3 linked regions of the Homo sapiens genome follow. The protein of the gene in region 3 purifies or fractionates together with the protein of the main gene of each other region. This does not show direct contact. Each region holds a gene or a part of one and is shown on either strand. Other genes may lie near its edges. The genes, in order: ARHGEF7, RNASEH2A and KLHL1.

Region 1 (3,117 bases), about 41 Mb from region 3:
GCTGTAGACACACCTGAGCCAGGTACACGGACCATGGACAGGAGACCCCGCTTGGTCCTCCCGGCCACCCTTCCGGAAGACACCCTCGTTTGCACCACCGCCACACAGGGACACACACGAGCAATTTCCTTTTGTCTTATGACAGCTCCTAAAAGGGACCCCACAGATATCTTCAAGAAAGTTTCGCTTACTTGATCCCACAAAACGGTGTCCTGAGCGCCTTCCAGAATGCAGGTCATTCCTCCAGGCATGGGTGAGGACCTGGGGGCTGTGCCTACCAGCGTGACCTGTTACTTCAGCTTTTGTTCCTAAGACTTCCAGTGTTCTTTCCTTGTCTTTTAAAAAAAAATCTTCAAATTTTCTCAAACTCTAGACTTTAAAGGAAACATGTTATCTTCAGTATCAAAGACAGACAGAATTTTCAAATCTAAAACAGCCCAAAGAAACTGTAAAGCTAACAAGCACACAGAAAACACATCAAAGAAGACGAAGCGACACATTCTGTGACATAAGAAAAATAATCAGTTTAATAATTACAACAGTGTAGCATCAACATTGTAGTAGTCAACACTAGGACATTGTCTGTGACATTTAAATTAGGAGTTTCTCCACACTTGTCAACAGGCGCCCTGGGTGTCCCAGAGAAGTGAAGAAATGATTGGCATTAAGGAGTCCACACAACCAGGGCAGGCATTCAAGGTCCCAGACGCCCAGCGCATGTGGACAAGCACAGACGCCACTGAGTGTGAAGGAACGAGCTTCTGATGCTACATTCCAACATCGCTGAAAACTGAAAGTGCTTCACATCTACAGGATAAGAAATGGCTTCATCTCCTCATCCATACAAGGTGAGAGCAAAGGAGTAACCCTCGGGCAAATCGTGGCCCCTTTAAACGTTTATATCAAGTTCCCACCCCCTTGGGAGGTCACACGGTGAAACAGACACAGTTATATACAACAGGGCAGGTTTTTAAAAAGAGTTGCTCTCAGACGCATTTTTCCTGCTCCCTAAAAAGCCGAGGAAGATACTGGATCCACAGAAAGAAAAGGCAATGCCGTAACATGAGGCCCTCATGGCCGCACCGTCCAGGGGAAGGGCTGTTAAAAACACAAGTATTCTTGTGAAATACTTCGATCTGAGCATTAAGGCAGGTCTGCAGGAGATCCGTCCTGGGGACTCGGACAGCAACGCTACCGGCTCCGAGAGGACAGTTAATGTCGCCTCCCGGCAGAGGGGCGGAGAGATCAGACAAGAGTTGTTCCTGAGTTAAAACCTGCTACAACAGCAAACTCCAATAAACTCAAGTTGAATGGTTTCCCACTGCAATGTCTTACGCATCACCAAAAAATAACTTGTAAAACTCAAGCTTACCAAAAAAGAAAGTGTTGATCTTTGCTTGTGCCCGCATGAGTGAATGATCTGCTAAGTTGAGGAAGCTGGCAATTCTAGTGAAAAGTCCAGGTGAGGCCAGGTTCTGCAGCATGGGGCAGGTCCACGCTGAGCCCAGGCAGACAACGTGACCAGTCACGGAAGGAAGCCAAAGGGGCTTGCTGGGCACCAGAGACTGTAATTAGCAAGGGCAAGGAAGAACCGTAAACAGCAACACAACACTCTCCCAAGGTGCCCAGCTCAAAGGCATCAGTACACAAAGGATTCAGGTGCAGTTAAAGGGCAATTTGGCCAATAGACAGAAAATCAGAGAGTCAAATCTGATGCGCAATGAGTTGTTCTGAGACCAGTAATCCACGGTGCTGCAATTTGGGTTTTTAAAGATAGAACACTTGTTCTACGGAAAAGTGTATCTCACTTTAAAACCAACCTTTTCACAGGAAAGGAAACCAAAAGCAAAGTCCCTGTGGTCACCCTTATTTATTGCTGAAGCAGAACGAAAACCTGCTCCACGGGCCGGGCTTCCTGCCCAGGACCGCACAGGCTTTCCAGAGCCAGCCTGGGCCCAGCGAGCCGCGGTGAGGACAGGCTTCGTCTCCTCTGCACTGGAACACAGTGGGGGAAACGTTCCCTGCTTATGCCTATGTTACTTAGTGGAACCTAAGGTGTATATTGCTTTATTCTTGCTGAAGGAGGGGATTTTACTTTCGGTGAGCACTGAAGCCTGCTGGCTACGGCCAATGGTGGAGGAGACCTCGGGATGAGGCTGGCCTGATGACAAAACTCCACCCATCAGTATCAGCCTGCAGCATGGCCTCCATCTGTTTTCATCAGCTGCAGTGACTTATAATAAATAATACATTCTATTTACAGGTTCTAGTAAGATCTCTCTTTGAGGGAAGACAAAACAGTGTATTTTGTTGTTACTGAACTAGCCTATACAGAACCGTCTGTGTCCTCCCAAAACGCAGCAAACTCATCTGAGAATCACAGTACTCAGACAGCGGACAAGAGCAAACACCTCTAGGTGGATGCGGCAGTGCCGTATGGGCCTTCCTTGAGGTCAAGACTGAGTCTGTCAGCCAGCAAGTTGCCCTCAGAAACCCGCAGGTCTGGGACTGTAATGCTGCTTTAAGAGAAGACTTCTGAATGGGACTGAAGTGTATCTCTGCAGGTATAAATAAGGTTATTTAGAAATACCGACATGGGGGGTGCTGCCACAGCACGGTGGAGGCCCTGGTGCTGCGGAACGAACCAGGCATCCACCAGGCTTCTGCTTCCGGTGGATGCGGGCATGGGACTTCTTATTCACGTAGCTGGAAAGGACATTCTAGCATGGGGATTAGCCCGGACAGAACCACCACAGGTATGCATTCAAAATGGGATATTTACAAGAAACATGTATATATAATATTTATATATTCAATTCAAAGTCTGGAAAAACAAGACTTTTAGTCAGTCACTGAACTTATTGCAGAATGAGGTAACTGAGATGTTCACAGAGTGGATTGATGTAGCTCAGGTCCTCAGAGTCAATCCCTCCTGTCTGGATTCATCAGTCATGGTTTGATCGTCTCCATTCGCAGAATAAGCTCCAGCTTTTCTATATACAGAGAGCAAGGTGGCGCCCCACCCAGCCCTGCCCTGTGGTCCTGAGTGCACCCCGACTTGGGTCAGGGGTGCCCAGCTTCACCTCAGAACTGGTCTTCAACAGAAAGAACTGAGGA
Region 2 (2,433 bases), on a different chromosome or scaffold from region 3:
CACCACTACACCTAGCTAACTTTTTATTTTTTGTAGAAACAGGGTCTCCATATGTTGCCCAGGTTGGTCTCAACCACCTGCCCTCAAGCGATCCTCCCACTTCGGCTTCCTAAAGTGTTGGGATTACAGGCTTGTGCTAACGCACTCTACCAATTTTTTTCTAGTGTTTTCTGCCACCTCAGTTCCTAGAACAGTATGTGGCATGCAGTAGGTGCTAAATAAGTTAGAGTAAAAGCAGCGTGATAGAGAAAGCCTCTTCAGGAGGTGAGTTTTTTCTTTATTTTATTGTATTTATTTTATGTTTTTATAAAGATGGGGTCTCACTGTGTTGCCAAGCCTGGCCTCAAACTCCCAGGATCAAGCGATCCTCCCGCCTCAGCCTCCCAAAGTGCTGGGATCACAGGCCTGAACAACTTTGCCTGGTCTAGGAGGAGATGTTCGAGTTGAAATCCCTGATTGATCCATCCTGGGGACGTGCTGGAGAAGAGGATTCTGGGTAGCAGGAAGAACGTGCCAGGGCTGTGAGGCTAGAGCATTGGTACAGTTGTTTGTTCAATTAATATGTGTCTGTTGCTGTGGCAGGTATTCGTGGACACCGTAGGGATGCCAGAGACATACCAGGCGCGGCTGCAGCAAAGTTTTCCCGGGATTGAGGTGACGGTCAAGGCCAAAGCAGATGCCCTCTACCCGGTGGTTAGTGCTGCCAGCATCTGTGCCAAGGTCAGTACCCTACTAGCCATGGCTGGCTTCCACCATCCCACTATATAGGGGCCAGGCATGGCCACCAAAGGGAAGGAGGGAGATTCCAGGTGCCTGTTTTGCCCACAGGTGGCCCGGGACCAGGCCGTGAAGAAATGGCAGTTCGTGGAGAAACTGCAGGACTTGGATACTGATTATGGCTCAGGCTACCCCAATGGTGAGCAGACACGTGACCATGGTACTAATGTTGAAATGGCCAGGGCTGAGCACACTTCTGAGGTTTTCTTTTTTTCCTTTCTGTCATTTATCATTTTATTTTGCTTATTTTTTGTTTTTATTTGTTATTTTTGTTTATTTTTTGAGACGGAGTTTCGCTCTTTTTGCCCAGGCTGGAGTGTAATGGTGCGATCTCGGCTCACCGCAACCTCCACCTCCTGGCTTCAAGCGATTCTCCTGCCTCAGCCTCGCGAGTAGCTGGGATTACAGGCATGTGCCACCACACCCAGCTAATTTTGTGTTTTTAGTAGAGACTAGTTTTCTCCATGTTGGTCAGGCTGGTCTTGAACTCCTGACCTCAGGTGATCTGCCTGGCTCAGCCTCCCAAAGTGCTGGGATTACAGGCATGAGCCACCGTGCCCAGCCTATTTTTTGTTTTTATAGAGATGGGGTCTTGTCATGTTGCCCAGGCTGGTCTCAAATTCCTGGAGTCAAGCAGTCCTCCCACCTTGGTCTTTCAAAGTGCTGGGATTACAGCCATGAGCCACCACCCCTGGCCCTTTTTTTCTTCTTTTTTTAAAGAGATGGGGTCTCCCTATGTTGCCCAGCCTGGTCTTGAATTCCTGGGCTTAAGTGATCCTCCTGCCTTGGACTCCCAAATAGCTAGGATTACAGGTGTGAACTACTGTGCCTGGCTGGAGGTTTTCTAAATTGCTCTGGTCACCCTACTCCACAGTGAAAGAGGCCAAGTGTTAGACAGTGGTGCCATTTGTTTATGGCCACACAGCCAGTGAGTGATAGAGCTGAATTCCAGGCCATAGGATTGCTGCTGTCTTCCCCGCTTCCCACTTTGCTGTCTTTCTGGAGCCCCAGTGATGGACTGAGACCCAAGGTGGGCATTTGTCCCTTTGTTAAGGGGAAGGGGACCAGGCGTGGTGGCTCATGCCTGTAATCCCAGCACTTTGGGAAGCTGAGGTAGGAGAACCGCTTGAGTCCTCGAGTTCAAGACCAGCCTGGGCAACATAGCGAGACCCCCATCTCTATAAAAAATTTAAAAAATTAGCCGGTTATAGTGGTGCCCACCTGTAGTCCCAGCTACTCTGGAGGAGGAGGCTAAGGTGGGTGGGTTGCTTGAGCCCAGGAGTTGGAGGCTGCAGTGAGCTATGATTATGCCACTGCACTCCAGCCTTGGTGACAAGATGAGATCTTGTGTCAAAAAAAAAAATAATGTTAGCCAGGCGTGGTGGCTCACACCTGTAATCCCAGGACTTTGGGAGGCTGAGGCAGGTGGATCCTTTGAGGTCAGGAGTTCTAGACCAGCCTGACCAACGTGGTGAAACCCCATCTCTACTAAAAATACAAAATTAGCTGGACGTGGTGGCACACGCCCGTAATCCCAGCAACTCGGGAGGCTGAGGCAGGAGAATTACTTAAACCTGGGAGGTGGAGGTTGCAGTGAGCCGAGATCGCATAATTGCACTCCAGCCTGGGAAATGAGCAAAATTCCATCTCAAAATA
Region 3 (4,451 bases):
TGTTTATATTTACTCAACAAAAGGGTATAAAAATTTCAGTACATTTGATTTTTTAAATTATAAAATTATAGGTAACTAGCATATTAAATAACTTTTAATAACATTTTATAACTTCATAGTATTCATAGTACCTAACGTTATAATTCTTTTTCCTAAAATATTTCACTTAATGGAATGATAGATAAACTTATATTTAGGTCTCCTATATATGGAAAAACCATTGACACAATTGATAATTCCAGATTATACTTCTCCCTCATTAAAATTATCTTACATTATAGTACATGTCTTAATATAACATTAGAATATGTTCAATCTCTGAAAATTAAAATTAAAAAATATATATAATGTATATAATTGAAAATTTTTAAGGATATTTTTAAATCTATAACCACATATGTCAGCATAATTAGGGAGCACATATATACATACACACACATATATACACATATAGGTTATACATATATAATTTTATCTATTCTTTTTGGTACTTAATCAAATTTATAAGAAACTGATTCAATCAACCAAAAGACTAAAAAAGATGCTTCTGTTACTAATTTGTTACTGTGTAGTAATTAAAATTTCTTAATATATACATTATCATTTTCCTATATTTCTCCTGTAGTTCTTCTTTAATAATGTATTCTGATATCACATGAATCTAAATGCAAATCATTTCATATCCTGACTATATTCCAAAACCAGTAATGATGTGGTTTAGAATAGTAATGAGTCAATTCTCTCAAAATGTAAAACTTGGGAGTTTTATGTCTATGAAGGATTTTCTGTAAGTCTTTAAAGTAGCAGAACTCTACACAAAGAAGCATAATATTTGAAATAAACTAGAAATAAATATTGAGCTGTTTACCAAGGAGACAAAATTTCAATACTGAGCCAACAAATCACAACAGCTAAATGCAAAGGGACTCCACGACAGTTTAACTCAAAGACTTACTCTGAACAAGGCAAGAGTGAACACAAAGTAAAAGGACCAGAAGAGAAGTTGGGACAGAGAATAAGACGACTGCATTTCAGGAGCAAAAAGAGAGGTAAAATAATGTTGCTGTCCAGTGGCCTCATTTTGTCCACCTCATTACTCCTGGAATAGATTCAAACCACAGGGACCTTAGATAATATGCTAAGTCAGTTACTAGGCCAATATATGAGATGCATTCTGATGATGTGTAAAGCAAAATTTCATCTTCAGATAATGGAACGACTGATATAATTTAATGACGGTAGATGACAGAAGAACACCATAATCTCAGGAATATGAGAACTATTCCACTTGAAGGCTTACAAAAATGCATGTAAGTTCAATTGGTGGCTACAACTTTGAAAACTTCCAAAAAGAAAAGTGAGGTGTCTGAACCAATAGAAATTAATGAGCAAACTTGTAATGAAATTAGAACTTGAGTAATCAAAACCAGGGTGGCATCTCTTAACCCACATTTTCAACCTGAAACATTTTAGACTTAGTAGCCACATGAGCACACGCGGTGAAATGAGTGGAAATTGAGAGATGCTTGGAAGCCCCGTGGGGACTTACTGTACCTGTGTCCACATCCTTCACCTGTTGCCTGGCTAGAGTTGTCTGGCTCCACTTTGAGCTCTTGCAGAACCAGCCCTTTTTCGTGTGGTCCAGGAAAGTCCATGCCTGGCACCACCTCCTCCTCTAGTGACTCCACGTAGAAGAGAGTCCTGGCTGGCTGCTGAGTGCCCTGCCCAGGAGCCCCTTGCTGCAGCCTCGTGGCAACTGGAAGCAGGGTGCCATTCAGCGGATTGAAGGAAGAGGAGGAAGAGGACGGGGAGGACGATGAAGAGGAAGAGGAGGAAGGCTTCTTCCAGAAAGTGCTCACACCGCTTCTCTCTTGGCTTTTGAGCAGGCGACTCTGGCTGGGTCCCCAGTGCTCAAAGCTGCCACTGCCGTCCTGTTGCAGGCAGCCTCCCCCCGCCGGGCCGCCGGTGGAAGGAGACGGGTGGCTGAAGAGTTTCCAGCGGAGTCGCAGAATGTGCTTCACATCGAAGTCTTTTCGCCCAGAGCCTGACATGCTTTACGCACAGAAGGCAAAAGGCTGGCAGCTCACGCAGGAGTAGGCTGGTCAGCAGGTGGGGGAGGACAGCGGGGCCCGGGGGCGGAGGAAGAGGCGGGATGCGCCCTCTGCACCCCTAGAGCCAGAAGACGCTAGGTGGGCTGCGCGCTCTGCCAGGCGAAGGCTGGAGCGCAGACGGCAAAGCCGCGCGTTTCAGCCGTGGTCGGGTCCGCAGGACCTGGGCGTGGGGACACCACCAGGCAGGAGCAGAGGCAGGACTGGGACGCCAAAAGCTGAGAATCCTCGATGCCCGCGCGAGAGCCCCGTGTTATGGCGAGGTGGGACAACCCTTAGGCTGGAGATGCGCGAGGGAGGGAGGTCTGAGCGCTCCGAAGCTCCGGAGGCGGCTGCAGCTGGATACACCTCACTGGGATGCGCTTGTGGCAGAGCCTTAGTAGGGAAGGTGGTGGCGTTCTTGTCCTTGCAGCTCAGAGTTCAGTGTCTGGAGAGCGCAGAGAGAAAGAGCCCCAAGTCTCGAGGAAGCGTACCCCTCGCCAGATCTCTTGGTGCACCTGCGCCCCTGTCCCTGGCCTTTTCGAGGATGCCCCGATAGCCTGCCGGGTGGCTCTGAGAAAGTCAATTGCTTTCTGCAATGCCAGAAGAGGTGGTTTTATATAGTCAGTTTGTAAAAGAGAAAAATAGATATTCTAGCGCATATAGGGAGGCAAAAGAAAAAGCCCGCCTGTGAAGCTGTCAAGGTCCTCACAGTACAATTTTCTCTCTGCCTCAGCGCCTCCTCCTCCCCTGTAAGTGACGCAGATGTGCACTGGGGCCTATACGGAGAGATGGAGGGAGGGAGGGAGGGAGGGAAGGCTTCAATCTTCTTTATGCAAGTGAGACTGCTGCTCTTATTGTCCCCTTGCGTGGGTCTTGTCACCTTTTTTCACCCTCCTTCCTCGCTACATTACTGTGTAGCAATACAAGGAAAGAAAACAGGCATTATGCTTTTGCATCAGTAAACACCACACATGAATCATGGCAGTGTAAACTTAATAGGCTGCCATCAGTTTGCAGGTTGCAGGTTAATGGCTTGAATTATTTAATGAACCGCGTCTTTTAACCTTTAGCCTTAGTTTCTCTGTAGTGAGACACAGAAGAAACGGATGCTGGCGTCAAAATGTGACGATGCCACCATCCTGACACTTACATTGTGATTCTGCTATTAAGGCACCCAGGCACTGCTTCACTCCTGGGGCCAGAGGCGTACGGTAGAAATTTGAAGATGGGCATCTGAACACGGGGGACGGGTTTTGCGAAATCAGTGCATTTGGTGTGTAGCCTCGGAATGAAAGCTGTTATCAGTGTAAATCAAGAATGGAATAAAATGATAAAAGAGAATTTCAAGGTATAACCTTCTAGTACATAAATCATTGTATACTATGCATGGAAGAGTTTAGGCAATAAATGAGAATAGCCGAAGGCTACTTACTATCTTGCAAATAGGCGTTTGGAGAAGATGTGTTTTCCCCTTATATCTATACTTAGAATGGTGAGGATTGCGATCACTTTCAGTACATGACTACTTGGAATGTTTTAACCTTTCCTTTAATGAGCCATTAAGATAGAACCCAGTAGTCTTTGTTGAAGGCAAAGGGACCAGAAATGCAATGTGTTCCCTAACTTAACCAAGAATATGGTTGTTGTCCATTCATGAAATTCACAGTTTCAGTAACCCCCAACAGAGCATAGGAATCAACCACTGAAGTGCAGTTAGGCTACTGCTCAGTTACCCCCAAGGTTGAGCTGTAAACGTAACCAGAAACCAAAGCTAAATTTGGAGTCCTTAGGCAAAGTTGGACGCTTTAATAAAATAAGAAATTAAGTGCACAAAAGACCTATTTTTAGGGGAATAAAAATCACTATAGTGCTTTTAAAATATTGATTTATGCCACAACAGCTGGACTGCAATCCCTTGTGCCTTGATTTTTCTCTCAGTATTCAGTGATTTTTTGTTTGTTTTTTGTTTATTAAGCAAAAAACCCTTTAAAGCCAACAATGGTGACAGATCATTTTTATCCAACAATGGAATCAAGTAAGCATTTCCCTTAGGGAAGAAAATAGTTTATGAAATTACACATCACAAACAGGACAGAGGAAACTTTCCATCAGAAATAATGTTGAAAGTTGAAGTGCATGTAATTAATTTATATAGAAATTAGTGCTTCATGGATTATCTCACTTGATTTATTTAAAATAATATAAAATAACATAAGTCAAGTCTCTGTATCTATATTTTTCATTCACCATTCACAAACTGTAATATAAAATTTATTTGTTATTCTAAAATTTAATTTTGCAGTTCCTTTTTCTCTGCAATACTAATAAGAATATTCCACAGTTAAAAGTTATATGTTTAAA

The links.
Region 1: the proteins of KLHL1 (region 3) and ARHGEF7 purify together in Homo sapiens (affinity purification with mass spectrometry; one large-scale study listed by BioGRID and IntAct). This does not show direct contact.
Region 2: the proteins of KLHL1 (region 3) and RNASEH2A purify together in Homo sapiens (affinity purification with mass spectrometry; one large-scale study listed by BioGRID and IntAct). This does not show direct contact.

Annotation. Positions count from the first base shown.
Region 1 is NC_000013.11:111,303,120-111,306,236, reverse strand, and holds the end of ARHGEF7 (rho guanine nucleotide exchange factor 7), read right to left. Parts: 3' UTR 505-3,117; downstream 1-504. UniProt on the Homo sapiens protein: Acts as a RAC1 guanine nucleotide exchange factor (GEF) and can induce membrane ruffling. Functions in cell migration, attachment and cell spreading. Promotes targeting of RAC1 to focal adhesions. May function as a positive regulator of apoptosis.
Region 2 is NC_000019.10:12,809,489-12,811,921, forward strand, and holds part of RNASEH2A (ribonuclease H2 subunit A), read left to right. Parts: intron 1-582; coding exon 583-720; intron 721-828; coding exon 829-916; intron 917-2,433. UniProt on the Homo sapiens protein: Catalytic subunit of RNase HII, an endonuclease that specifically degrades the RNA of RNA:DNA hybrids. Participates in DNA replication, possibly by mediating the removal of lagging-strand Okazaki fragment RNA primers during DNA replication.
Region 3 is NC_000013.11:70,105,649-70,110,099, forward strand, and holds the start of KLHL1 (kelch-like protein 1), read right to left. Parts: upstream 2,805-4,451; 5' UTR 2,052-2,804; coding exon 1,555-2,051; intron 1-1,554.